Linked DNA regions of Homo sapiens. The protein of the gene in region 7 purifies or fractionates together with the protein of the main gene of each other region. This does not show direct contact. Each region holds a gene or a part of one and is shown on either strand. Other genes may lie near its edges. The genes, in order: GTF2I, ISG20, GLDC, CRYBG1, SRRT, USP16 and SOST.

The links.
Region 1: the proteins of SOST (region 7) and GTF2I purify together in Homo sapiens (affinity purification with mass spectrometry; 2 studies listed by BioGRID and IntAct, with this or other methods). This does not show direct contact.
Region 2: the proteins of SOST (region 7) and ISG20 purify together in Homo sapiens (affinity purification with western blotting; one study listed by BioGRID). This does not show direct contact.
Region 3: the proteins of SOST (region 7) and GLDC purify together in Homo sapiens (affinity purification with mass spectrometry; 2 studies listed by BioGRID and IntAct, with this or other methods). This does not show direct contact.
Region 4: the proteins of SOST (region 7) and CRYBG1 purify together in Homo sapiens (affinity purification with mass spectrometry; one large-scale study listed by BioGRID and IntAct). This does not show direct contact.
Region 5: the proteins of SOST (region 7) and SRRT purify together in Homo sapiens (affinity purification with mass spectrometry; 2 studies listed by BioGRID and IntAct, with this or other methods). This does not show direct contact.
Region 6: the proteins of SOST (region 7) and USP16 purify together in Homo sapiens (affinity purification with mass spectrometry; one large-scale study listed by BioGRID and IntAct). This does not show direct contact.

What each region holds. Positions count from the first base shown.
Region 1 is NC_000007.14:74,663,805-74,668,092, reverse strand, and holds part of GTF2I (general transcription factor II-I), read right to left. Parts: intron 1-4,288. UniProt on the Homo sapiens protein: Interacts with the basal transcription machinery by coordinating the formation of a multiprotein complex at the C-FOS promoter, and linking specific signal responsive activator complexes.
Region 2 is NC_000015.10:88,648,787-88,653,074, reverse strand, and holds part of ISG20 (interferon-stimulated gene 20 kDa protein), read right to left. Parts: intron 2,841-4,288; exon of another isoform or gene 1,161-2,840; coding exon of another isoform or gene 966-1,160; coding exon 765-965; intron 1-764.
Region 3 is NC_000009.12:6,586,283-6,590,570, forward strand, and holds part of GLDC (glycine dehydrogenase (decarboxylating), mitochondrial precursor), read right to left. Parts: intron 3,011-4,288; coding exon 2,913-3,010; intron 2,421-2,912; coding exon 2,336-2,420; intron 2,161-2,335; coding exon 2,119-2,160; intron 1,002-2,118; coding exon 859-1,001; intron 1-858. UniProt on the Homo sapiens protein: The glycine cleavage system catalyzes the degradation of glycine.
Region 4 is NC_000006.12:106,566,501-106,570,188, reverse strand, and holds part of CRYBG1 (beta/gamma crystallin domain-containing protein 1), read right to left. Parts: intron 1,718-3,688; coding exon 1,623-1,717; 3' UTR 1-1,622. UniProt on the Homo sapiens protein: May function as suppressor of malignant melanoma. It may exert its effects through interactions with the cytoskeleton.
Region 5 is NC_000007.14:100,881,180-100,885,467, reverse strand, and holds part of SRRT (serrate RNA effector molecule homolog), read right to left. Parts: intron 4,184-4,288; coding exon 4,055-4,183; intron 3,810-4,054; coding exon 3,663-3,809; intron 3,416-3,662; coding exon 3,227-3,415; intron 1,399-3,226; coding exon 1,229-1,398; intron 1,101-1,228; coding exon 916-1,100; intron 729-915; coding exon 630-728; intron 546-629; coding exon 428-545; intron 256-427; coding exon 98-255; intron 1-97. UniProt on the Homo sapiens protein: Acts as a mediator between the cap-binding complex (CBC) and the primary microRNAs (miRNAs) processing machinery during cell proliferation.
Region 6 is NC_000021.9:29,030,824-29,035,111, reverse strand, and holds part of USP16 (ubiquitin carboxyl-terminal hydrolase 16), read right to left. Parts: intron 276-4,288; coding exon 172-275; intron 1-171. UniProt on the Homo sapiens protein: Specifically deubiquitinates 'Lys-120' of histone H2A (H2AK119Ub), a specific tag for epigenetic transcriptional repression, thereby acting as a coactivator.
Region 7 is NC_000017.11:43,752,688-43,756,029, forward strand, and holds the end of SOST (sclerostin precursor), read right to left. Parts: intron 3,077-3,342; coding exon 2,655-3,076; 3' UTR 1,051-2,654; downstream 1-1,050. UniProt on the Homo sapiens protein: Negative regulator of bone growth that acts through inhibition of Wnt signaling and bone formation.

The DNA.
Region 1 (4,288 bases), on a different chromosome or scaffold from region 7:
TGGGAGGCCGAGGCAAGTGGATCATGAGGTCAGGAGACTGAGACCATCCTGGCTAACATGGTGAAACCCCATCTCTACTAAAAATACAAAAATTAGCTGGGCGTGGTGGTGCGCACCTGTAGTCCCAGCTACTTGAGAGGCTGAGGCAGAAGAATCACTTGAACCCGGGAGATGGAGGTTGCCATGAGCCGAGATCATGCCCCTGAACTCCAGCCTGACAACAAAGCAAGACTCTGTCTCAAAAAAAAAAAAAAAAGTTTCTTTTGGTAAAATCAGGCTGGGTGTGGTAGCTCATGTCTCTAATCCCAGCACTTTGGGAGGCAGATGCAGGCAGATTGTTTGAGCTCAGGAGTTGGAGACCAGCCTGGGCAACATAGTGAGACCCCCATCTCCACAAAAAATAAAAAAATCAAGCCAGACGTGGTGGCATGCACCTGTAGTCCCAGCTACTCGGGAGACTGAGGTGGGAGGATGTCTTGACCCTAGGACACGAAGGTTACAGTGAGCCAAAAGCATACCACTGCACTCCAGCCTGGGCAACAGAGTGACATCCCGTCCCTCCCCCCACAAAAAAAGGTTAAAATGGTAATTTTTGTGTTAAGTATATGTTACCACAATTTAACAACAACGACAACAACAAAAAACACTACAAGGAACCACTCCAAAGAAAGGCATTCACGGTGTAAATGGCAGACACAAATTTATTCTTCATAAAGGAACAAATTCATCTTACAGGATTTTCTTTTTTTTGAGATGGTGTCTTGCTCTGTCGCCTAGGCTGGAGAGCAGTGGCAAGATCTCGGTACACTGTAACCTCCACCTCCCGGGTTCAAGTGATTCTCATGCCTCAGCCACTCAAGCAGCTGGCATTACAGGCACCTGTCACCACTCCCAGCTAACTTCTGTATTTTCAGTAGAGATGTGTTTTTTTGTTTGTTTGTTTTCCTTGAGACATAGTCTTGTTCTATGGCCCAGGCTGGAGTGGAATGGCGTGATCTTGGCTCACTGCAACCTCCGCCTCCAGGGTTCAAGTGATTCTCCTGCCTCAGCCTCCCGAGTGTCTGGGATTACAGGTGCGCACCACCACGCCTAGCTAATTTGTTTTTGTTTTTTGAGACAGAGTGTCACACTGTCACCCAGGCTGGAGTGCAGTGGTGCGATCTCAGCTCACTGCAAGCTCCGCCTGCCGGTTTCACACCATTCTCCTGCCTCAGCCTCCTGAGTAGCTGGGACTACAGGCACCCGCCATCACGCCTGGCTAATTTTTTTTTTTTTTTTTTTGTATTTTTAGTAGAGACAGGGTTTCACCATGTTAGCCATGATGGTCTCGATCTCCTGACCTCGTGATCCACCCGCCTTGGACTCCCAAAGTGCTGGGATTACAGGTGTGAGCCACCGTGCCCGGCCAATTTTTTGTATTTTTAGTAGAGACGGGGTTTCACCATGTTGGCCAGGCTGGTCTCAAACTCCTGACCTCAAGTGAGTCATGGCCTCCCAAAGTGCTGGGAGTACAGGAGTGAGCCACCACACCCAGCCAAAAAAAATTTTTTTTAATGCTTACCGGGGGGGAAAACGAAGAAAGAAAACGAACAGGAGGAAGGAGTAACACTAATGAATCTTGCAGGGTCTATTTCTCTGCCCTTTCCTCATATGGACATAATACATGCCATCGTCCTCCTCTGTCAAATTATCTCACAGATGAGATCATGTAATTTAAGTGCATTAAAGTCTAATGCCAAAGCCAGTTACTAATTTTAGTTCACTTCCAATACCTTATTTATTTTCTTGAAACCAATTACGGTCTGAAAACTCAATCTAGATAAAATTCTACTCACGTCATGTATGTGTTATAGTCAACAGTAAGAGCTAAATTTCTAGATATAACAAATTAAAATGAACAACATATAAAGCATACATTCTCAGGTTTCATCAATCCAACTGTCAAGCTCTGGCCAGGCGCGGTGGATCACGTCTGTAATCCCAGCACTTTGGGAGGCTGAGATGGGCAGATCACCTGAGGTCAGGGGTTCCAGACCAGCCTGGCCAACATATAGTAAAACCCCTTCTCTACTAAAAAATACAAAAATTAGCTGGGCATGGTGGCGCACGCCTGTAGTCCCAGCTACTTGGGAAGCTAAGACAGGAGAATCACTTGAACCCGGGAGGCAGAGGTGAAGGTTGCAATGAGCTGGGATCCCGCCACTGCACTCCAGCCTGGGTGACAGAGGGAGACTCCATCTCAACAAAACAAAACATAAAAACAATGTAACAGTCACAGGGGAAAATCCCACAGAGGAATAAGTCCTTGCCCTTGCAATTCATATTCTCCAGAGTTCTTGGAGATTAACGTCATAGTCGATATTACTAGTAAAATTTTCGCTTCCTCAATTTCCCAAAAGTCTTTATAATAGTACTTTTATGACTAATATTTCTTGAGTGTCTACTACATGCCAGACAGCAACCTAAGCACTTAAACTCTATCCTTGCAACAGCTCTTAGAAGCGAAACATGTTCTATTATCAACTCCATTTTTAAAAATAGGGGCCAGGCGTGGTGGCTCAGGCCTGTAATCCCAGCCTTTGAGAGGCTGAGGTGGGCGGACCATCTGAGGTCAAGAGTTGGAGACCAGCCTGGCCAACATGGTGAAACCCTGTCTCTGCTAAAAATACAAAAATTAGCCAGGTGTGGTGGCGCATGCCTATAATTCCAGCTACTCGGGAGGCTGAGGCACAAGAATCACTCGAACCCGAGAGGCAGGGGTTGTAGTGAGCTGAGATCATGCCACTGCATTCCAGCCTGGGTAACAGAGCAAGACACTGTCTCAAAAAATAAAAATAAAAATAAAAAATAGGCCGGGCACTGTTGGCTCACACCTGTAATCCCAGCACTTTGGGAGGCCGAGGCGGGTGGATCACCTGAGGTCAGGAGTTCGAGACCAGCCTGACCAAAATGGAGAAACCCCGTCTCTACTAAAAATACAAAATTAGCCAGGCGTGGTGGTGGCACATACCTGTAATCCCAGCTACTCAGGAGGCTGAGGCAGGAAAATCGCTTGAACCCAGTAGGCGGAGATTGCGGTGAGCCAGGCGCGCCACTACACTCCAGCCTGGGCAACAAGAGCAAAACTCTGTCTCAAAAAAAAAAAACAAAAAATAGGGAAACATACAAAGATGAAGTGAAATGCCCAAGGTCGCACAGGCAGGAAACGGCAAGGGCCAGGACTGGAATCCAGGCAGTCAGACTTCAAACTTGTGTCGCTAGCCATAAGCTATAAACCCTCTCTCAATTTATAAATTTGTCTTCCCTCTCATGATATATTTTTTAAGTAACTAGTTCTTTAAAAATCCTACATAGAGTGTTGGCCAGGCGTGGTGGCTCATGCCTGTAATCCCAGCACTTTGGGAGGCTGAGGCAGGTGGATCATTTGAGGTCAGCAGTTTGAGACCAGCCTGGCCAACATGGTGAAACCTGTATCTACTAAAAATACAAAAATTAGCCGGGCATGGTGGCACACACCTGTAATCCCAGCTACTCAGGAGACTGAGGCAGGAGAATCGCTTGAACCTGGGAGGCGAGAGTTGCAGTGAGCCGAGATCGCGCCATTGCACTTTAGCCTGTGCGACAGAGGGAGACTCCTTCTCAAAAAAACAAAAACAGAAACAAGTTACAACCAAAGGAGAATGAGTCAATCCTCCAACAACTCTGACAGTTCCTGGCTATACTGAACTTTCTCTTACTTTCTCAGTAGGCCAAAGTGGTAAAAAGCAAATGAGTACTGCCAGAAACAGGCATGGAATACCAAAACAAGAATTTTACAGAGGAGAAAACAAACAGGAAGACAGCAGGGAGAGTTCCAGAACAAAAGGACAACAGTAAAGGACGACAGGGCAAGAATGGAGAATGAAGAATTATCAAGACAATACCTTCACCTCTTCCGATGACGTACCCACACAATTTTTACAGGATACACACATCCTTGGCTGGGTGCGGTGGCCCAGCACTTTCGGAGGCCAAGGCGGGCAGATCACCTGAGGTCAGGAGTTTGAGACCAACCTGGCCAACACGGTGAAACCCCGTCTCTACTAAAAATACAAAATTAGCCGGGCATGGTGGCGGGTGCCTATAGTCCCAGCTACTTAGGAGACTGAGGCAGGAGAATCGCTTGAACCCAGGAGGCGAAGGTTGCAGTGAGCCAAGATCACGCCACTGCACTCCAGCCTGGGTGACAAAAGCGAGACTCTGTCTCAAAAATAAATAATAATAAAATAAAATGCAATAAAAAAACACA
Region 2 (4,288 bases), on a different chromosome or scaffold from region 7:
CTCTTAGTGTCTGGCGCCTCTCCCTCTGCCCTTCCCACAGGGTGAACTCCCAACCCCCCATATCCGTATGCCTTTTCCTGCCTGCTTTGCCCACCAGCCAGAAGTGCTGCGGAATCAGTGCCCAGGAGCAGCAGCAGCTGGTGGCTGATGGGAACTGGTGTACAAATATCCCAGTTCCCCGGCCCCTGCTGTGAGACATATCTGAGGTGAGGTGTGTGCTTTACATCATTGCCCAGAGTTCTATGGTGGGAGCAAGCTTCACTTCCCACAGGGTAACTGGCTTGATTTCAACAACAAAAGCAAACCTTTGTTGGGTGTTTTCCCTTCCCTGCCCTCATCCTCACTCTACCAGCCAGGGACCAGGCACAGCAGGACCTACCATCAATGCCTCAGGCAAGCTGCCCTGAGGTGTGCGAGGGCATGAGGGAGGAGGAGGAAAGGGAGGGGACAGGGGAGGAGGAAGGGGAAGAAGGGGAGAAGAGCGAGGAGGTGGGGGAGGGGGAGGGGGAGGAGGAAGGGGAGGAGGGCAAAGGGGGAGGGGAAGGGGGAGGAGGGGAAGGAGGAGGGGAAGGAGGAGGGGAAGGAGGAGGGGGAGGAGGAGGGGGAGGAGGAGGGGGAGGAGGGAGGAGAAGGAGGAGGAGAAGGAGGAGGGGGAGGAGGAGGGGGAGGAGGAGGGGGAGGAGGGGGAGGAAATGGAGATGGGTGAGGAGGAGGGGGAGGAGGGGGAGGAGGGGGGAGGAGGAGAAGGACGAGGAGGTTCTCACCTGGATGCTCTTGTGTAGGAGGCGCTCACTCAGCACCCGCAGGGAGACACGCCTGCAGTGGTCCAGCTTGGCCTCACGCCACAACAGCCTGTCAGTGGACGTGTCGTAGATTGTGTAGCCGCTCATGTCCTCTTTCAGTGCCTGGAAGTCGTGCTTCAGGTCATGACCCACCACCAGCTTGCCTTTCAGGAGCTGCAGGATCTGGCCAGGAAGACATGTGCCCACCCCTACATGACCCAGCATCTTCTGGGTGGGGCTGGGGCTGGCAAGGGAGCAATCCCTCCTTGACTGGCTGTGTGACCTTGGGCAAATTATCAGTCCTCCCTGGGCTTCAAATGTATCATCTTTGAAAAGAAGAGATTGCACTAGGACCCTCCTCACACCTGATAGTTTCATTCTGTGCCAAAAGCCCACCTGGACTCCTTCAGGAGCTGAACTGTGTAGGAGCAATGGTTAGTACATCCTGAGTATTTCCCAGGTGCCAAGCGTGCCTCAACATACGTCATGTATATTATGTTGTTTAATCTTCCCAACAATTCTATTATGGCAGGCAGAATAATGACCTCCCAAAGATGTCCACACCCTAGTCCCCAGGATCTGTGAATGCATTACCTGGCAAAGAGGAATTAAAGTTCCGGGCAGAACTTAGATTGCTAATCAGTCGACCTTCAAATGGGGAGATCACCTGGCCTACCCATGTGGTCCCAACATAATCACAAGCCTCCTTACATGTGGAGGTCAGAGTGAATCCACATGAGGAAAACAGGCTGTTGCTGGCTTTGAAGATGGAGGGAGGGGCCGTGAGTTAAGGTATTCAGGCAGCCTCTAGAAGCCAGAAAGGGCGAGGAAATGGATTCTTCCCCAGAGCATCCAGAAGGAACCTAGCCCCACTGACACTTTGATTTTAGACCAGTGAGACCCACGCTGAACTTCGAAACTACAGAACTGTAAGAGAAGACATCTGTGTTGCTGTGAATCACTAAGTTGATGGCTTCCTTACGGCAGCCACAGAAAACTAACAGTGAGGAGGGAGCACTGCATTTAACTGAGTTTTACAAAGGAAATATCTGAAATGCAGAGGAGTGACATGCCCAGGCTTACTCTGATGATTTTAAAACAAGTTTGCAAATTCCTTGACACTCTTCTTAAAAAAGATGGAATCAAACTCCCCTCCCATTGCATATGGGCTGGCCTGTATGACTTCTGACTTCTCTCTGGGACCGCAATTCTATAAGAAGTCCGGCCACCAGCCAGGCACGGTGTCTCACGTCTGTAATCCCAGCACTTTGGGAGGTGAGGCAGGTGGATCACCTGAGGCCAGGAGTTTGAGACCAGCCTGGCCAACATGGTGAGACTCTGTCTCTACTAAAAATGCAAAAATTACCCATGCGCCGTGGCTATTCCCAGTTACTCGGGAGGCTGAGGCAGGAGAATTGCTTGAGCCTGGGAGGGAGATTGCAAGTGAGCTGAGATCGTGCCACTGCACTACAGCTTGGGCGACTGAGCACGACTCCGTCTCAATAAATAAATAAATAAATAAATGTCTGGCCACCCCAAAGCCACCATGCTGGAAAGACCACGGGGAAAAGCCACCGAGATAGTGATGTGTCCAAGGCAGGCCAGCACCAGCCACCAGACAGGTGGGTGAGCAAACCTTCCAATGGTTCCAGCCCCCAGCCTTCAAGGTGCCTTAACTGACGGCCTGTCCTGCTGCAGAGCACCTGCCCAAACTGCAGGTGGCCGAGCGAAATAAGTATTGACATTGTTTGAACCGGTAAGTTTTGGTGTGATTTGCCAAGCACCATTTGATAACTGGGACAGTCACACGGCTAGTTAGTGGCAAAGCCAGGCCTTGAAGCCAGTGGGATGAATCCAGAGCCCGCCTGCCACTGCCACACTGAGCCAGAAGAGTGAACGACCACTCCAGGCCTCCAGCAGCCCAGGCGCCCAGCTGTGACTGCCCCAGCCCCGCGTTCCTCGCCTCGCCTCCCACATGGACAGCCTGCCCTGCTCTGGTCACACAGGCCAGTCAGCTTGCTTTCACTCAGCTGCCGTTGGAGAGGATGGGAAGGGGACCTGAAAATAGAACAGATGTGAGCTCTATTAGGGAAAGGGGCGGCTCGTGGCTAGTCCAGGCCCACTTTGGACAGCTCTAGGACAGCCTTCGTCTCCTTCTCTGCATGTAGCCCACGACCTTAGCCTGTACACCAGGAAAGAGCCTTCTGGTGCCTAACACCTTCCCCGTAGCCTGCTTCTCCTTCTAGATAGCCAGCGGCCTCCTGGAACATCATGTGTTCCCTTTTACATGTTCTCCCCTGGCAACCACAGGAGACTGAGGCTCAGAGAGGAGATGTGACTTGCCCAGGGTCACTATGCGGGAAGCAGTCTGTCCATCCACTGTCAACAGGCAGTGTCACCAGCCTGCCCCGCGGTCCACATGGTCTGGTTGGAGGCCTTCTCTGGACAGAGCTCACGCTCGACTTAGAGGACTGGGGAGAGTGTGCTGGAGAATGAAGGGGCGCTGCTCCTGAACCACACCAGCGCTTCTCAAACTTGAGTGTGCTAGAGGTCACCTGGGAAATGGCGACAAAACTGAGGCTTTAAAAGATGACAACAGGCACACGACCTCAGAGTAGCAGCTCAAGGGAAACTCTGTGCAGAGGAAACCACCCAGCACGCAGCGGCGGGCAGAAATGGCACGGGGCGTGGAGAGATGTGGGTGTGTGGGCGGCCATGGGTCATGTGTCTTTTCTTGCTAACATCCTTTGTGCTCCTGAACAATGTGGCCTGTTTTCCCCATCTAGGGGCTTGGCTCAGGCCCAGTTCACACAAAGCCCTGAAGGAACTCATCCACCATCCCAGAGGCAGCCACAGCTGGGCACAGACGTAGAAGGTACGAGTCATCATGGTGTGGATTCCCAGGAAACCCATCACTTCCCGAGCCTGAGAGTCTGGAGAGGGGAAGTGGGGGTCTACATGAGGCACTATGTGACTCACCACGAGACAAATAGAATAAGAGGGAGAGGACAAGCCGAGGAAAGAAGAGGAAGAAGGGAAAGAACAGAACCATCTATTTAGCAAAGAGACACCACTCTTTGGGACAAAGATTCTGGGAAGGAAGAGATGCTGGAACTTGCTGTGTGACCTCAGGGATGTCAAAGACCCTCTCTGGGCTTCAGTTTTCCCATTTGTAAGGTGAGGGCCCAGACTGGTGAGGCTTGAGTGGCCCTTTAGCAGCCAGGGCTCCACAGACTGAGGCAGGTCTGAAAAGGGAAGGAGTCGGGCACCTGCTGGAGCCCAGGAGTCGGAGAAAGGCACTGGCAGGCTGGCCTCGGGGCTGTGTGACCTGCTGGCCACAGGACCTGCCCTGAGTCAGTGTCATGAGGCAAGTGTGCCAGACTTTGCCACTTTCAAACACAGGGGGAGGAGTCTCTCAAATTCCTGGAAAGAACTGGGGTGGGGCTGGGGGATGGGACATTTATTGATCTCTTAGCAGCCTGGCACTGTGCCAGGCACTTTCCTTA
Region 3 (4,288 bases), on a different chromosome or scaffold from region 7:
AAAACTCCATCTAAAAAAACAAATAAATAAATAAAAATAAAAATAAAGAGTCTTAGTCTCACCCCCTGGAGGTTATGATCAGTGCGTCTGGAGCGGGGCCCGGAGTTTGTATTTTTAACAAGTGCTCAGGAGATTTTGCTGGAGGCTGTTGCTTTTGAAAATCACTGTTCTTCTTCAAAGTCTTTCCTTTACAAAGAAATTGAGGCTGGAAGAGGAGAAGGGACCTTTCAAAGTTAGTGACATTACCAAAGCAGGATCCAGGTTCTCCTGGCCCTGCTAAACTGAGACACTTGTTGGAATTCAGCATGTGTGCTTGATCCTTCTTCTTATGCTGTGTCACTGACAGGTGTAGTAAGCTAGCTTCCAAAGACAGTCCGCAATGAACGACATCTACCAAAATTCACACCCAGGTGTTGTCCCCTCCCCGATTCAATCTGGGCTCGCCTCGTGACTTGCTTTAATAGATAGACTAATCTGGAAGGGATGCAGTGTAACTTAGGAGGTTCGGCCATTAGAGATTTGCAGCTTCTCCATGCTTCATCTGGGAACACGCATTCTGAACCCCGACATTGTGCTGTAAGGAACAAGGAAGCTCAAGGAACTACAAGGAAAGCCCCATATGGAGAAAAACTATGGCCCTAGTGAACATCCTCAAATGCACTCCCAGCCCACAGCTCCTCACCAGCTATGTGAGGGAGAACACGATGCACCTTCTAGCCATGCTCTCCCCAGTGGAGTGGAACTGTCTAGCAAGTCACAGAATAACACAAAAAAGTTGTTGTTCTAAGCCTTTAAGTTTTGTGGTGTATGCTATACAAGAATAGATTGCTGAAACAATAAGAAAAGAAATGCCCTTACCTGTTTGGCTGGAAACAGACCTGGTCATAACCTGTGAGTTCACACAAATCCTTCTCAAGCTCTCGGAAAAGCTGCTGATATCCTTGAGCTTGATCCAGAGGCACAAAGGGGTGGATGTTTGCAAATTCTTTCCATGTGATAGGCTGAAAAGAAAGAAAACAAAAATGCATATATACATATTATAATAGCAATAGCAATAATAACTTTAATAATAATGACGATGATGAGAAAAGCTATGTGCCAGGCACTGTTCTAAGCGCTATACATATGTTAATTTATTTAAGTTCCACCACAACCTTATAAGGTAAGTACCGTTACTGTCTTCATTTAAAAGTGGGACATAGTTGTCCAAAAAGGGAACTTACACAAAAATACAATGTTTTGCTAACTTTTCAGGGAAGAAAAGCCCCCAAAACAGATTTCTTTCCATGAAACACAATGAGTTGCTTCAGGTATGGTTGGCATAAACTCTTATATAGCAATAGATTGTTCTCTTTCTTCACTAAGTGGAACAAGAAACAAACACAAAAGTAAATGGGAAGGCCAGGTACAGTGGTTCACACCTATAATTCCAGAACTCTGGGAGGCTGAGGTGGGAGGACTGCTTGAGGCCAGGAGTCTGAGATCAGACTGGCAAACACAGCAAGACCTTGACTCTATTTTTTAAAAAAATAGAGAGGGAAATATTCTTATCATGATATAAAATGATTTCTTTCGTCTGATATGATATGTCACTTCAGAATAAACGTAAGAAATGAAAGAAAGAAAAAAAAAGCTTCGCTAAAATGGATCCTGGCCTAGTAGAGATACTTGCCAACCACAACAGCGAGTTGCACAAATCTTCTGTTGACTTGAATCCCTATCTTTCTGATACAGGAATGATTTCTAGAAAGACGGCTTAAGGTTCGTAATTCTACCTGAGATTTAGAACTATAAACAATTTTTTTTAAAAAAGCTTTTAATATGACAGGTTTAAAAGGGGGTGGGGGTGGGGGAGGGATAGGATAGAAAGGCATAAATACCATATACATTTAATTAATTTTATTAAAAAATAATAAGTTTACCCATACATTTAAATGATGAAGTCGTGAGAAATACAGGGTTACTCCCAAGATTGGTGAATAGCAAGGTAAAGAATTATTAAAATAGTTCTTCAATCACAGAATCACAGTCCCAGTAGATTTCACTAGTTCTGGGCTTAGGTGGAAGCTAGAACACTGCCCCTTGCTGAGTATCCACTTACAGAAGTGAGCTACTTACTGCGAGTTCAGACGAACTGTTCAGTTTCATGGTGCAGGATCCCTTTAAGAAGAACATCCAAAATGTATCACATTAGTGATTTTCTATAGTCCATCAATCAACCCTCCATTCTCCCAGCATGGCCACCCCTTTGTTGCTCTTGGAGCATATTAGGTAGGACCAAGAGACGTGGGATTGGGGTAGCTTGGAAATGAGAAAAAAGGCCACAAATAACTACCAGTGGAATCATGCTGTGAACAAGGGAAATGTCTTTATTTTCCAGTTTCTTCATGTACCGGACAATGTTTGTTTCAGAGTGGTAGCTGTGAACACAAAACACAGAATTAGGGGCCCCAAAAGTAGATATGAGTCCATGCACATCCTCCTGACATATAAGACACACCGAAATCTACTTTCAAAATGCAGATCAATTTTGGCCACGGACAATATGTCAACTACACTCAGAGAGAAGGGCACAGACCCCCACAAACCTCAGAGGATGTCTTGGACAAGAAGCTGACTGTGGGTATGAGTTGAAGGTTGGGAAGAAGAGGATATAGGGCTCTTGGGAGTGAACTTCAGCCTGGCAATTATTCATCCCTGCTTCCTGACTGCCAAGGGAGCAGAGCCACCAGGAAACAAAGTGTGCTTTTCCCAAGTCAGGAACGGGATCGTTATGAGGATGAAATACTTGGGAGCCACGGCTGAGCCAGAATAACCAGGCCACAGCAGGCGAAATCAGCAGCAGCACTCTGCCTAACTCCCTAGCTGATTACCAAAGCACAAAACGCAGAAGTCACACAAGACACACAAACCTGTTGAACACTTGATGGGTGAGGAACGGGCTGGTCCTCTTGAACACAGACCCTGGAATACCTCTGCACTCCTCTCCCATGCTTTCAGCAACCAGTTCCTGAAGGAGAAACACAGAGATGATAGGGCCAGAACTGTGCCTGGAGCCACATGTGGACATCCAGGCTTCTGGGTGGCTGGGCCACAAAGCACTCAAAATGGATCAAATATATAATTTTACTTATTTATTTATTTATTTATTTATTTAATATTTTTGGAGGCAGGGTCTTTCTCTAGCACCCAGGCTAGAGTGCAGTGGCACGATCTCAACTCACTGTAGCCTTGGCCCTACTGGGCTCAATCCTCCTACCTCAGTCTCCTGAGTAGCTGGGGCTACAGGTGCATGCCACCACACCTGGCTGATTTTTGTATTTTTCTAGAGACGATGTTTCACCATGCCGCCCAGGCTGGTCACAAACTCCTGGGCTCAAGCAATCTGCCTGCCTTGGCTTCCCAAAGTGCTGGGATTACAGTCATGGGCCACTGAGCCTGGCCAAAGATGTAAATTTAAAAGCTAAAACTACTAAAACTTAGAAGAAAATAGGCCAGGCGCGGTGGCTCACACCTGTAATCCCAGCACTTTGGGAGGCCGAGGTGGGTGGATCACAAGGTCAGGAGATCGAGGCCATCCTGGCTCACATGGTGAAACCCCGTCTCTACTAAAAAATACAAAATTAGCCGGTCGTGTTGGCGGGTGCCTGTAGTCGCAGCTACTCGGGAGGCTGAGGCAGGAGAATGGCGTGAACCTGGGAGGTGGAGTTTGCAGTGAGCTGAGATCATGCCACTGCACGCCACCCTGGGCGACAGAGCAAGACTCCATCTTAAAAAAAAAAAAGAAAATATAGGGGCTAATCTGCATAACCTTGGATCTGGCAATGGTTTCTTAAATGTGACACCAAAGGAATAAACAATAAACATATATAAAAATTAGATAAATTAAATTTCTATAAAATTTGAAATGTGTGTGCATCAAAGAACATTATCAAGAAAGTTAAGAGACTGACTACCCACAGAATGGAAGAAAATATATGTAAGTCATATATCTGATAAGGATTTAATATCCAGAATATATAATCAATACATGGCTTGATCCTCATTCCTTGCCAGGCTAATAATATGACTAATACAGATTTAATACTTGTCCCCTCCAGATCTCAGGGTGAAATGTGATCCCCAGTGTTGAAGATGGGCTTGGCGCTGTCTTCACAGTAATGAGTGAGTTCTCACTCTACTAGTTCCCATGAGAACTGATGAGAAGTGATTGTTAAAAAGAGCCTGGCACCTCCCTCCTCTCTCTCTCTTCCTTTTTCTTTTGCCATGTGATGCCTGCTCCTCTTCC
Region 4 (3,688 bases), on a different chromosome or scaffold from region 7:
GATGGAAAAGAAACAAGCTGTTCTACCTGTGACAAGAGCACCAGTATTGAGTGATGAGGACAAAAAGAGGAAGAATATATTCAAGGAAATGTTTAGCACTTTTGTTCAAAGCTAGAACCCACTGTTGGAAGAGCAGCGTATGGGCTGGTGTCTTGTCAGTTGTTAAGCAGTTTGTTTGCATTTTGAAATGCTTACTGCAGTTGAGGATTCCAAGATTGCTTGAAGATTGATTTGACTCCGGTCAAATCAAGACTTGACCAGCAACATCCCTAAAGGTCTCTTTTCCTTCACTTTCTGGGGATAATTAATTGCTGGTCATCCTCTTGAGCCTTTCACACCTCGTTTAGTGGCTATAGTGCCCCCAAGACCTGAGGCTGTCCACCAACAGCTATACCCTGAAGCATGGCTGCAGAACACTGCAGGGAAGGCAGCCCCATGCAGGCCATGTGTGGATGCAGGTGGATAGGAGGACAAGAAATTAGGCTAAAAAATCTGAGTTTAGCAAAAAAGTATGTAACATTGCTTCAGCACTTGTAGATGAGTAAGGATGGCTCATAAATTAGGTCATAATAGTGTTCCAGTAGCAGCTATAAGAAAGGCATTAAACAACCCTCATTTGTGACATTCTAGGGCAGCCCATGGATGAGTTAAAATAATTCAAATCCTGGCTGGGCGCAGTGGCTCAGGCCTGTAATCCCAGCATTTTGGGAGGCCGAGGCGAGTGAATTGCTTGAGCCCAGAGGTTCGAGATCAGCCTGGGCAACGTGATGAAACCCCATCTCTACAAAAAAAAAACAAAATTTGGCTGGGCTTGGTGATGTGTGCCTATAGTCCCAGCTACTTGGGAGGCTGAGGTGGGAGGATCACCTGAGCCTGGGGAGGTAGAGGCTGCAGTGAGCCGTGATTGTGCCACTGCACTCCAGCCTGAGATCCTGTCTCAAAAAATAATAACTCAAATCCTACTAACAAATGTTACCAGACTTTGACATTAAATTTTTAAAATGTATTAATTTTTAATATGAACTAAAGGAAAATAGTATTTTGTTTAGAGTTCCTTAAATGTGTGAATACCTAAGGCTTTCCCATTGTGCTATGCAGCATATTTAAAGGTTCCAGAAAGTGTTTAAGGCCAAGAACCAAAATTACAGGCCTAATAAAGTATTTCTTCTCAGATGCTAAACAGTTCTCTACCTTTCAAACTTAAGCCTTTGTCTTACCCTTTAAAGTGTAAGGGCTTTGTAGGTCCACAAAGTTGGTAAATTTGTTCCAGTTCTCTCCTGTCACTATCTTTGGAAATAATTTAAAATGTACACAGTCTTGAAATCTTGATATAACATTTTACAAAATCACCCAAAAGCTGCTAATTAGGCAACCTGTTTAAGCAGCTACCAAAAATGAAAGGCAAGAAATGAAAGGAGGACAAATTATTGGTTTAAAGCTATGATAGTCTTTTGAAACGATGAGTAAGTTCTCTGAGTCATGGCAGCATGATTTAAGGTTGAATTTAGAATCAATGAAGGAGGAGTCGATCCACTTTCCAGTCTGGTCTTCCATCAGCATTGTCCTTTTTAAGAAATAAGGTGGCTGGAAGGACCTCCAGAAGATTCTTCTTCCTTCTTTGTTCAGGTATATAGGACCATGGCTTCCCACACTTGTGTAAACTTCTCTTTGCTGACAGTGTTGAGGATAATGTGATTTTGATCATACTGTGTGCCCCCTAAAAGAAAGGAAAATAATAAAAGATGAATGTACCCATGGTGAAGGGTCTATAGCAGACACAATTCCCCTAACACCAGTACAGCAAAAGTAAGCAAGTAAACAAGGTGTAGAACTGCATGCCTCAAGGAGGCAAGGCAGGGAGGGAAGCCTGGGCCCCTGTGGGATGAGAGGGTCAACCTGCCATGGGTGAATCTGTCCAGATCCCACCATTGGGGCACCAGCACCTTCACACAGGACATCCCACCTCACGGGCTCCTTTTTCTACCCAGTTCTTAAGAGCTAGTCCACAGTCACTCTTACAATGTCTGAAATTCAAGGGAACTGGGAAAACCCGAGAGAAGGGAAAAGGAGTAAAGAGACTAACATATATTTGGTGGTGAGATGGTAGATTCGAGACACCAGCGAGGAAAGAGCAGGTAGTCCTGGCAGTGGTGGAAAGGTGGGAGGAATGGTTATCGAGGAACAGCACTTGCATGAACAATGAAAACGGGCTGTATTAGGTCAAAGGGGAGGTTTGGATGACACCCGGAAGTACATAAGGGGACGCGGTAGCATTGTCACTACTGGGGACTCAGTTGGTGGATAAAATTTCATAGCATTTAGGATGCTGAGTACCACAGTATTGTAAAACTATTATCATGAACTCTCTCCCTGTTACCAGAATGTTTGTAAGATTTTCCAAAGGTGCTTACTGGATGTTTCAGATACTTTAGTGCTAAAAACAGCCTCATGGCTTCTTTCTTTGGAGAAGTATCATTAACAAAAGGGTTATCTGATTTTTTTTTTTCCAGTGTAGAATAAAGATCCCTTCAGATGGCTTATCCTTTTTTTAGCATAAACCTCAGCACCAAGGATGTATCAACAAAGACCCCATCAAAGTAAAAATCTGTGCATTTTGATGCAGGGAGTGACTGGTATTGAAAGCATGCTTCCTCCTTGGATCAAGAAGAAATAAACATTCTTTTCACCTTTGAAGCATTTACAAAATATGAAAAAGGTTTGGGAATTTACACAATAAATCTAGGTATTATAGTTGAGGAAGGAAATCGTCTCTTCTCTTGTGAGACACTGATTTATCATCATTGGTAATCTACAGCCTCTACACAGCTAGATGTATGGCTAGATGTACTATAGAATACAAGGGTAAGGTGTTTTGGGCCTTTATGTGTAAGTTTGTAGCAGTAGGGAAAAAACTACCAGCAAACCCTACACTCTGCCGAGACAGAGACACACAGCATACTCCACTGAAATTTCAGGAAGTATTAAAGTCACAATGTCTCTTTTCATTCTTCATTATAGTATGTTAAAATACTTTTTGTATTTTAAGAGTATCTTTTGTATTTTAAAAGTAAAGTATCTTAAAATACTTTCATATAAATTCAACTAGAATCATGAAAACTAGAAAGTTCTTGAGAAATAATTTGATTCATTCTCTTGCCTTTGGAGAGTGTTTAAATTGTGCAGACTTCATGTTTTTTAAAGTGAACATGAATCAGCTTCCACTGTTGTTACAAGGTATGTGGTCTGGAATAATACATGAATGTCTACCAAAAGAACTCATTTCCCAAACACAAGAAGATGAGCTAGAAGACAGATGCATGATCTAATAATTCTTAGGGCAATTTTAATAGATAACAAATGGTTCAGTAGTTGTAGCTAATGGAAATCATGGTCTGCTAGTAAGTGCACCAACGAGAAGAGACGTGTTTATATTTTCCTTTGCATGGGGTGTGGGACGTGCGGCGCTGCTCTCTCATGTCCACAAGATGGCACCATTCTCCCAGTCTGAGAAAATTAAATTCAGTTTAACAAGGAATTAAAACTGTTGTAGCTAGCCGGGCGTGGTGGCAGGCACCTGTAATCCCAGCTACTCAGGAGGCTAAGGCAGGAGAATTGCTTGAACCCAGGAGGCGGAGGTTGCAGTGAGCCGAGATCGTGTCATTGCACTCCAGCCTGGACGACAGAGTGA
Region 5 (4,288 bases), on a different chromosome or scaffold from region 7:
GAAACGGGGGCATCTGTCACAGGCAGGGCCCCACTGCCTTCCCTCTACCCTCCACTTCTCCATCAGCCCTGCCCTGACTCCACGGGTCCCCACTCACGGAGATGATCTCGGCCCGGGAGATGTTGGGCGCGATGTTGCGCATGAAGAGGGAGCAGGTCTTATGCAGCGGCCGCGGCTTGCACTCCAGCCCCGCGGCGTCCTTGGGCTTCTCCCATTCTTCTTCCTTGGGCTTCTCCTTCTCCTTGAGCGCTTCTTCTAGGCAGGAAGGGGGGTAGGAAGGAGTTGGTGCATTTTTATTACTGATTGTGGTGGGGAGGATACAGAAGCTTTCCCCTAAAAGCCACCCACCCTCCCGTCAATGTCGCCAACCTCTCACCTCCCCACCCGCATTAGGAGAACGCACTTTAAAGCAGAAAAGAAACCCTACCGGCCTCCTCCTTCTCCTCCTCAGCCTGGCCGCTCTCTGACTCCGACTCAGACTCTGACACGCTGCCCTCGTCAAAGCTGTCGTCACCACTGTGCTTCCGGTTCCGCTTCTTGCTACTCTGTGTGAGCCACAGCAGAGGGGACAAGTCAGCGTGCCAGAACCCCAGCCCCAACACTCTGACCCCAGGCCACAGACACCTCACCTTTTTGGCTTCCTTCTCGGAGTCTTCTTTCTTCTCTTCCTTGTCCCCATCACCCTCCGACTTCTTTGTTTTGTCATCATTAGAACTGTCATTCTCAGCCTATGGTAAGAGACAACCACTGGGGATGTCAAACCTCCCCTCCCACCTTTATCAGAGGGCCCCCACCCCCACAGCTGAGGCCACAGGTTCATTTTCCCCAGCCCCCTACTTCTAGCTCCTATGGACCCCTACCCGCCCCCCTCCCCCAGGCTGCCAGGGACAACACTAGGAGACCCAGGGCTCGGACCTGCTTGCCGTCTTCCTTCTTCTCATCCTTGTCGTTGGTTTTGCGCTCCCCGTCCCCTAGGCCTGCTCCAGCCCGTCCTTCTTCTTTCTTGCTGGGCTCCCCAGGCTTTCCTGCCTGCTCCTCCTCCTCCTCCTGCTCCAGGATGCGAAGATCATTCTCCGTGCCTCCTTCCATCTTAATCACGGCTACCAACAAAGGGAACAGAGGTCATGACCCCAGGGCCCTGGCTCCTGTCAACCGGCTTCTACCTGATCCCCAGACACCCCCACCCCCATGGGGCCCAGATGCCTGCCACCCCTCCAAATCCGCACACCTGCATCCAGCATCTTGACAATGGCATCAGCTTTGTCTATGTCCAGGAGAAGGTTATCAAACCAGCCAGTCTCCATGAGGGACAGGAAGACCCTCAGTCGGTTTTGCAGGGCCCCCCGGGCCTCCTGCCGACGCTTCCCCACCTCATCTGGGTGGTACTTAGACCGAAACCTGGGAACGAAGCGGGGGAGGGAAAGACAAAACAGTTATTGGAAGCCAAGGCCAGGATGTGGGAAGGGGCCCAGGAAAGACAGGGCATATCCCCCTTCCTCTCACAACCACAAAAGGTCATCAAAATAGAGAGATTAAGGGATAGGGGTGCGCTAGAACCACCCAACACCCCAAAAGGAACCAGAAGTTGTGTTCTGTGAAGATTTGGGGGAGAACCAGGAACTAAGAGCTCTGGATTTGGGAAGACCAATGACTACAGGGGGACGCCAGGGTAGGAGAGGCAGATTTACCACTTTAAATCTCTGGGAAACACTAACGTAGTAAAAAGGTGTCATTTCCCAAAGCTTCAGAGAGGAAGGCTCAGGAAATAGCAGGCCCTGAAGAACCTCCCTCTCCTCACCAACCCCAAACTGCAGTCATTCAAAAACTGCTCCCGCCAACTCCCTCCACCCCGAGGTGGAAGACAGAGGGCCAGATAGCAAAAGCCCAGAGGCAGGGCACCTTTCTCCACCCGTGGGAAGATAAGCAAGACGGTGAAGGGACAGGAAAGACCGAAGGGAGACACTGGAGTGCCCTTTAGAGCCTCAGGTCCTGCCCACAGGGGGAGAGAGAGGAGAGGGCTGGAAGGTTAGGGAGAAGAAAAATAAAACATTTCAAATAGGACCTCAGAGGGAAAACAGAAGAAATGAGGAGTATGAGGAAAAGGGGAAAGGGAGGAAAGGGGAGAGTGTGAGAAAGTCCCAGAAACCGAAAACAAAGGGAAAAACTAAAGATCAGAGAGAGAAACTAAAAAAACCAACAGGGAAGAAGGTGGTGTTAGGCAGGGAGCAAGAACAGAAACAGAGAAGAATGAAGGTGCTGAGAGATTAGGACAAAGACACAGAGCAATTCGAGAGAGGGGACAGCGAAGACAGAACAGAACCACGAGTGGGGCAGAAGAGGAAAGGAAAGCCGCAGGCATCACCTCCAGGATCTTTACCTTGGCCGCTTGGTCAAACAGAGCTCAAGATTTAACTAGCGGCGCCCAGGGCCCATGCTGGCTGGTGGGCCACCGGCTGGCTCCTGGCTGGGCGCCCGGCCGAGATGCCCACGCGGGACTCCGCAGTGGGGCCTGACTGGCTAGCTGCCTGAGCAATCACATTCAGCTAAACCGCTGCATTGTGCACAGCAGTGCCCTGGCCTGTCTGCCTGGCCGGGGCCGCGCAGCTCAGCCCAGGGGCTCATGTATGGGCTGGGTATGGTGGGGGTGGAGGTGGGTTTGCTCCGAGCTCCGTCGATGAGCGGGTGTAGTTCCCAGTTCTGGCTCTTTTCAAGGAGGAGGAGCAGAAAGAGGATGAGGAGGAGGAGGAGCAGGAAGGGGGGAAAAGATGGTTGATTAAAATTAAAACATCCACAAAAGGAAAAAAAAATTAAAATTCTTTTTCTGTCAAACGACCGAGATCTTTGCTTTTCTTGTCTGGATTCACTCGTCGCTTTAGGAGGACGCCACAGCCACACAGGGTCCTGGTGATCAGGGATGACAATGACCCAACACCAACAAGTGGGAAGCAGTCTGTCTGCTGCCCCAAGGGGCCAAGTGGCTCTGGCCTGCTGCCTGGAGGTGTCCCACTCTCTGAGGACAGCAGGACAGGAGACAGGGCGGGGCGGGGGCCGTGGCAGTTGCTGAAGTGAGGGGGAGACCCCATCAGCCAATGCTGTCATACTTCCCGACCCCCGCCCCCAGAAAGTTCTGGACAGGGAAAACTGGGAAGAGGACAGGGCTGTGGCTCCACCAGCGGGGCCAGGGGGACATGCCAGGGCAGAGGTCCAGGGAAGTAGGGGCACTCACCACTCCTCATCTTTGTGCGCCAGGAAGAAATCCTGCATCTGTTGCCTCCGGAAATCCAGCTTGTAGTCATTATAGCGCTTGACGGCCTCCGTCTCATCCACCGAGTCATCCAGGGAGAGGAGAAACTCCTTGAAGGTCTTCATCACGGGCGGCGGCACACCCAGGTCAATCTCTGCAATGCTGCCCAGCCTGGAGGGGACCCCGGTCAGGAAGGCTTGGTTTTTGGGGAACGGTGGGAGGCTACAGGGGCCAAAGTAGCTGGGGCCCCTTTACTTTGTCCACCATGGACATCACCCCAAACCCCAACAGCTACCACCCCTACCCCAGGGACATGCCTCTGTGTGCCTGACCCGCTCCCTGGCTTCAGCCATGGCCTTCAGCAACCCCATCCATCCCCCAGGCCTACCAACCCTCTTCTGAGAAGCCCCACCCTTACCTGGCCTGGATAGGCAGGACATGGTGCTGCATGATGTGGACGTCAGGGTGGCCCCAGGGCTGAGGGGGGCCATAAGTTGGGCCCCCACCCCCCCCAGCATAGGGCATCTCATAGCCACTGTGGTATGGGTCAGAGCTGTGCTCATCCCTGAAGGTGGGGGACACAAAAGTAAAGCAGAGAAGGGAGTCACCTCCCCAGAGCATGGAGGATGGACAGACGGGGGTACACACAGCATGGTCTCCCAGACAAGGGTTTCAAGGGACAAAGTAACGATGGGTGATGGGAAGTTGAGAAAAGGAAATGACAAAGATTTAGGCACAGGTGAGGGGAGAAAGGGGAGGCCCAGGTGGAACTGAGGCAAAGGGGAGGAGAGGGAAACCGCTCCATCTCACCAGTCTCTCCTCATGCGCTTCTGTGGCGGGCTGAGTTCGTGGCGAGGTGGCGAGAAGCGCTCTCGCCGATTCCGGTCATAGTCCCGATATTCACCCCGACTACGGCGCTCACGGCCACGGTCCCACTCTCTGGCAGTAAGAACAAGTAACAAAGATTAAAGGCCAGGCACAGTGGCTCATGCCTGTAATCCAAGCACTTTTGAGGCCGAGGCAGAGAACACTTGAGGCCAGGAG
Region 6 (4,288 bases), on a different chromosome or scaffold from region 7:
CCAAGTAAAAGCTTCTCATAATACTGCATTCTTTAGCTTTGTGAAAGTGATGGTATTTTAAAACATACTACAAAAATTTTAAATTGCTTTCTTCTTAAACATATTTAAACATTTCCATTCTCTAATATTTCAAATAATTTCCACCCAAGAGGCAGAGGAACTGAAACTCACCATACACTCCAGTTGTCCAAACTAAGAACCAGACAGTGAGGTTCAGATCTTGGCGTCAGATAGTGCTTCAAGGCATGCTGCTCCTGAGAATTTCTGCCACAGCCCTAAAAAAATCATAATCATAAACCTCAAAGCCATAAAAACTCAGCAAGAGGGGAGAATGCATAATCTATCATAAACAAGGAAGTGGCTCATGAAATTCTGCCATTCTTACAATCTTGAAAAGAAAATGTTAGACTCTAGAATCAATATTTTGTTAAAACTTACATATGCACAGGCAACTGAGAACATTTAAGTCAACAAGTATTTAGAAAACCATGCACTCGCTAGGCGCGGTGGCTCACACCTGTAATCCCAGCACTTTGGGAGGCTGAGGCCAGGGGTGGGATCACCTGAGGTCAGGAGTTCGAGACCAGCCTGACCAACATGGTGAAACCCCATCTCTACTAAAAATACAAAAATTAGCCGGGTGTGGTGGCGCACATCTGTAATCCCAGCTAATTAGGAGGCTGAGGCAGGAGAACTGCTTGAACTCAGGAGGCGGAGGTTGCAGTGAGCCAAGATCACGTCTGGGCCTGCACTCTAGCCTGGGCAACAAGAGCAAAAACTCCATCTCAAAATAAAAAAAAAAAAAAAAAGAAAACCATGCACTCAAAGTACTCTTCTTGTCCAACTTTCCAGCCCAGATTAAACCACACTAATGCAGTCAAGTCTGGTTTGGATTCCTTAACAGTCTCCTAAACATTCCCCTAACTTCAGCCTCCTTCTTCACATGCATATTCTTTCAGTTTAGTGTTCCTAAAACAAAGCTCTGTTCATACACCATTCAAAAATTATGAATTGCACTCTTAAACTCCTAATAAACAAACCTGACATCCTCTGACCCCGACATATCTCTCCAGTGTTAACTCCCACATTCTCTTATTCACATACCAACGACCAGCTAAAAACACACTGAGCGCTTTTCACAACTATGCAATTTTGTTCACATTATTCTATTTATCCAGAATCCTTTATGAACACTGCTACCTAACCAAATCCCACCCACTCTTCAAGATCTTGCTCAAAAGCCACCTCCTCCCAGAAGCCTATACTTATCTCCCAGATGAGAAAATACTGTCTCCTTCCTTTAAACAAATTCTATAAAACATGGCATGAATTCCTAGTGGCATTCCTTATTTTTTACCTTGTACTAACGTTATTGATATTTATATCCTTTCTCACCTGGTCTATAAATCCCAAAGGCTCAAGGCAGTAGACTTAATCTATTACCAAATATTCTAGAACACAGGAGGTGGTCAAAAAACACTATTTAAACAAGTAAATGGGAGACTTTTACCTAAAAGATGTATAGGCTTATTCATAAAAGAACATGACCTAAACTTCTGCTTTCAGCTAGTCAGATCACTGCTGAGAAACATATCTTCACTGTGTATCTACTGGAACCAGTCTATCAACTTTTGGATCACAGTACAACAACCGGTCGTGTTTCCATTGCCGCTAAATATATACTTTGGAGAAGAAATATACATTGGTAATTTCTAATTCCTTAACTATGATCCCAAACACTATTCGCTTAATTTATCCCACTGAACATTTAATTACAAAATAAATGAATTAACATTTGATACTATTTTTGAAAATTACAACATCATTTGAGATCATTTGAAACATAGTTGTCTTGAGACAACAGTTAAGAATCATTAGCTAACAGTGCCAAAGGTATCTAGTGGGAAAAAAGTTAGCAGTTAATACTGACATGTCTTATTCTTACAAATTAAAAAGGTAGCACAAAAATTTGTAACACAAAATATATTCTGAAAAACTGAAATAGCAAAGCATATTCATACTCACCATATGTATTTAAAAGGTTACAATTAAACCTTTCAAATACAAGTAAACAGTATCTTTTCTAACATACAGATTTTTTTAACTGACCACAATGAGATATCAGTATATAACTATCATGATGGCTAAAATAAAAAACTGTGACAATTGTAAATGCTGGCAAAAATGAAGAAAAAGTGAAAGTGAATCATTCATACACTGCTAGTAAGAATATAAAAGGTAGAGTCACTGTGAAAAAACAGTTTGGCAGTTTGGCAGTTTCTTAAAAAACTAAACATTAAATTGCCATAGGACCCAGCAATTGCACTCTTGGGCATTTATCCTAGAGAAATGAAATCTAAGTTCACACAAAAACCTGTACACAAATGTTAACAGCAGCTTTATTTGTAATCACCAAAAAATGGGATCAGCCCAGATGTTGTCATTCGACAGGTAAACAGTAAAAACAAGCTGTTGTACTATATGCCATAAAATACGCTCAGTAATAAAAAAAGAGCAAACTTGATACACACAGCTTTGATAAATCTTTGGGTGATTATGCTGAGTGAAAAAGCCAATCCTGGCTGGGCACGGTGGCTCACACCTATCATCTTAGCACTTTGGGAGGCCCAGGGGGGTAGATCACTTGAGCCCAGGAGTTCAAGACCAGCCTGGGCAGTATACCAAAACCGCATCTTTAGAAAAAATACAAAAATTAGCCAGGAGTGGTGGCATGCAGGTGTAGTCCCAGCTACTCAGGAGGCTGAGGTGGGAGGATCACTTGAGCCTGGGAGGTGAAGGCTGCCGTGAGCCGTGATTATACCGCTGAACTCCAGCCTGGGTGAGAGAGTGAGACCCTGCCTCAAAAAAAGAAAAAAGCAAAAGCCAATCCCCAAATGTTGCACACTGTATGACTCCATTTACATAACATTTTTGATGAAATGACTAAATTTAGAAATACAGAATAGAATGGTAGTTGCCAGGGGCTGCAGAGAGTGGTGGCAGTAGGGAGGTGGGTATGATTATACAAGGGCAACACAAGAGATCCCTGTGATGTTCAACTATTTAGTATCGTGACTGTGGTGGTGAATAATCTACACAGGTGACAAAAGTGTACAGAATGTAATACACATGTACACATACACACATGCACAAAAAAAGAAGTCAAACTCAGGAGATCTGATTGCGATTGGTGTGTTGTTTCAATCTCAATATCCTGGTTGTGATATTATACTCATTTTGTAAAATGTTACCACTGGGGGACTCTGAGAAAAATGCATAGGGATTTCTCTGTATTATCTGTTAGATCTGCACATGATCTATAATAACCTCAATAAGATTTTCAATTTGAAAACGTGAAAAAACAAAAAATCCTGGCTGGGCGCAGTGGCTCACGCCTGTATTCCTAGCACTTTGAGGGAGCCAAGGTGAGTGGATCACTTGAAATCAGGAGTTTGAGACCAGCCTGGCCAACATGGCAAAACCCTGTCTCTACTAAAAATACAAAACTCAGCCAGGCGTGGTGGCACACACCTGTAATTCCAGCTACTTGGAGACTGAGGCAGGAAAACTGCTTGAACCTGGGAGGTGGAGGCTGCCATGAGCCAAGATTGTGCCACTGCACTCCAGCCTGGGTGACAGAGTGAGACCCCATCTCAAAAAAACAACAAAAAACTGGCTATCTGCCTGATCTTGAAGCCTCATGACTTCATGACTACTGCCTAGTAGCCCAATTTCCTAACATATAAGCTTAACTTGCCACCACTAAGGGTAACTGAGAGACCCTGACTTTAGTACCACGGTAATAACTGTGAGCTGGTAGAGTAGATACTGTGATGTGCCAGCCAGACATGCCCTCACTGCCAAAGATCAAGGTACTACTCATTCCCCCAGGTGCTGAGAATGTGGCCGGCTGAGAGCTCACAGTCTAGTCCATCCATCCCCAGGAATCAGTCTCAACAAAAGGGAGCTGCCTTGCCCAAGGTTACTTCCTGCTCTAGGGGCAGGCCACATCCAATGACTGGTCTATGCACAGGTAGAAAGGTCTAGCTCCTTGCCTCAATTCAGGCAAGAGATCACTGTGGGATTGGCTGAGACCCTGTTGCCACTGCCTCTTCATTCAACTTCTCCCTATGCTTAATCTTGCTTCCCTTACTTTTACTGGTGTGGTACCAGAGAACACTCCACCACCTATACACACATCTCAGAACTGGTTCTCCAGAGAACATGATCTATGTTACTAGTATCCTTTTATCCATACTGTACTTTCAGGTAATACCTTCTAAAGTAA
Region 7 (3,342 bases):
CTTGATGATGATGATTAATTCAAGTGGGTTATTGGTAGTTAAACTGACAAGTCATCAGGAGGGACCTCAGCTTTCTTTGTGGGGGTGGGTTCCCCCAAGGTAGGCTGGACTTAATTTAAAGCTTTCCAGTTGACCATCCCACCTTAGGGCAACTGAAGAGTAACTTTAGGGTTACTCTTCATCTGAAGATGCTAACTCAGCTAGCATCCAGCACTATTAAGACACCTTGGGGAGGCGAGACTTTGAGAGAAGTGCAGGAGGCTGGCCCACTTTTGAAGATCCTACATTTCTACCCAGGAGGCATCAAATCCACACTTCGAAGAAGATGAAGTTTCCTGTGAGCTGGTCCTGAATTGTACTTGGCTTTGTGTTGTCTATGCCAGTACTAAGCAGGACTTGGCCAGGCTGGTCCTCCATGAATGACTGTCAAATGGAAAACAGAATTAGGAACCAAAGTAGTGGTGTAGACAAAAGGGGCTGGAACCTCAGAGGAGAGAGGGATCATGGGAGATTGGAACATCTCTGGAAGGTTAGGGGAAGAGATGACAAGTAATGTGAATCCTAAAGAAAGAGGATTAGTTATTGGGGGTGCTAAGTGTGGATGGCAAACTAAGGAAGCAGGGATCTGCATGACCATTTGGAGTCAGTAGGAAGCTTGGTGGAGTGGGAGGTGGGAGTCAAGCAGAGAAGGCCTCCCATGTCAGATAGGGAAACTGCACTTGATCCTGGGCAAGGGGGAGCTATGGAAGGCTTTTGAGCAGGGGAGTGATACAATGAGAACAGCATTTTGGAAGCCAGCATGGAGGGGAGGCTGCTAAAAGGATACAAGGCTGAGGTTATTACCATGCCCTGGGTGAAGAAATGCGGTCTGGGTTTGGAAAGGAAGGGATAAACATGACTTTTCAAAGGAAGACATAATTGCCACAAGGGCCACCAGAGAGCAGTCAAAGGTGTGTCCAAGGTTGGAGCTCTAGTGACCAAGAGAAGGGTGTCAACTTTGACAGAAATGACGTCATGTGTGGTTGACAAAATGAGACCACATCCTTTCGGTCATGATTCATTGTCTTTATTAACAATGTCTCTGGACTCTGGAAGAACAGACTGTTAATTCATAAAGCAATATTAACATTGTCATTCTCTACAAGAAAAACTTTTGCATAAATAACTTAAGTGAGAAAATAAATATGTAACTTAACTCTTTAAAAACCACTACTTTCATTCTTGTGGACAAGTCCCACGTGGAAGAATTGCCAAAAAAACGACCAGTCCTGCAGGCTTTCATATGTCATGTGCTTCTGTTTAAAACTTTTTTTTTTTAACAATTAAAAACTACACAGAAAGTAAGAGGTTGTCTGGAAATGATTTTCAAAAAGATTTTTGGGTGGCAGTATTATGCTCTGCAGTTTCTCAGCATATGTACAGCACTTGTAGTTTTTCCCCCAATAATATTCTTTTAGTGTAAGATATGCCATCACATGTAAGAGCAGTAAGAAGCTGTTTTCTAGGCAGAAATGTGTCCGTGAGTGGTGGGCAGAAGGCGGTGTCTCAAAAGGGATGTGCTGGTCTGTGAGTTTGTGATGGCTGCTCCCTCGGGCCTGCAAGGCCAGTGTCCTTGAACCTTTCACTTCTCTTCGGAAGGTGACTTTAAAACATGGCTATGGGTCGGGGGAGGGATGCTGCTCTTTGGGAAGTTGGGGCGGATGTGATTTCTATCCCTCCCACCACCCTCGGACCCTCTCCTTTTCTACCCCAATGGATGATGTTATTTCTTTGAGATGGAGGGGTGGAGGTAGCCAAACATCCGGGGAAGCCAGGCTGGGAAGCAGCATAGCTTCTTCCAGGAGTTTGTCAGCCGTAAATATGTCAGCCATAAATAGACTCTTTACTTTTTTTTTTCTGTTTGTTTTTCATCTTTGGCTGTCAGAAGAGAGCATCACAACTCTGAATTCTGGAAGTGACCTTGGCACTGAATCAATGCAACTGCATTCATTCTCTCTCTTTCTCTCTCTCTCTCTCACCTCTGCCCATTCAAAAGGCACTGGAGTCCTTGGAATCATATGCCAATAGTCTCCTCGAGATCCTATTCCCACCTCCACCCTCATTTTACAAAGTGGAAATTGAGGTCCCGAAGGAGAATTGTGTAGTTCAAGGTTACACAGCAAGTTAGTGGCAGAGCCAGGACTAGAAACCACATCTACAGTTGCCCCCAGTCTTGTGCTCTGGGCACGCCTCAGGCTTTCTGATGGGCAGCGAGGTGCAAGGGGGAATCTTATCCAACTTTCTTAACCAGTCCCTGGACTTTCCCACTCCCACACCGCTCCCTTAAAACCCCAGGGCGGTGAAAATGCTTCCATTTCTGCCTCCTCTGAAGTGGGACCAGCAAAGGTAGGCGGCCCCAGAGGCGGGGCTGCGTGGCTCAGTGTCTGTGACTCTCAATTCCCTCCCCTGCCCCGTGGGACCCCTCAGCTGGCGGGCTGAGGGGGGCCTTGCCGGCGCCCGGGATTCCTCAGGGCCTGGAAGGTCTCAGCCCCCTGCCCTGGGTTGCAGGCATTTACAATGAAATATAAACAATCAAACCACGCGCAGAGGACAGAAATGTGGGGCGCGGGTTCAGGGCCGGGGCGCCCGCCGGTGGGGAGGGGCGCGGGCGGGCTCTAGTAGGCGTTCTCCAGCTCGGCCTGGTTGGCTTTGGCGCTCCGGGCGCGGGGCCGCGGCTTCCGGCCCTTCTGCGGCCGAGCGGCCTCGGTCCCGAAGTCCTTGAGCTCCGACTGGTTGTGGAAGCGGGTGAGGCGCTTGCACTTGCACGAGGCCACCAGGCGCACCTTGCGCGCGCGCGGCGCCTCACCACCGGGACACAGCAGCTGCACGCGCTGCGCGCGGTAGCGGTCGGGGATGCAGCGGAAGTCGGGCCCACTAGGTCGCCACCACTTGCCGCGGCCGATGGCGTTGGGCAGCAGGCGCGCCGGGCCGCACTGGCCGGAGCACACCAGCTCGGTGACCGGCTTGGCGCTGCGGCACGGCCCATCGGTCACGTAGCGGGTGAAGTGCAGCTCGCGGCAGCTGTACTCGGACACGTCTGTGGAGAGAGGCGCGCGTGAGGGTGGCCGCCCGCCTGGCCACCCCTGCCCTGGACCGGCCCGTCTCTCTCCACCCCAGCCCTGCTTTTGCCAAGCCTGTCTCCAGAGGCTTTTGCCCCTGAACATCTATTGCAGGAAGGTCCCAGATGCTCTAGAGCTGGTGGAAAGCTCTCCTGCGCACCCTGTCCCCTCGGAGCCAAATGACTGCTGGGGTTCAAACACCAGGGCTCCATCGCTCACTGCAGGTGTCATCTTGGGCAAGTTC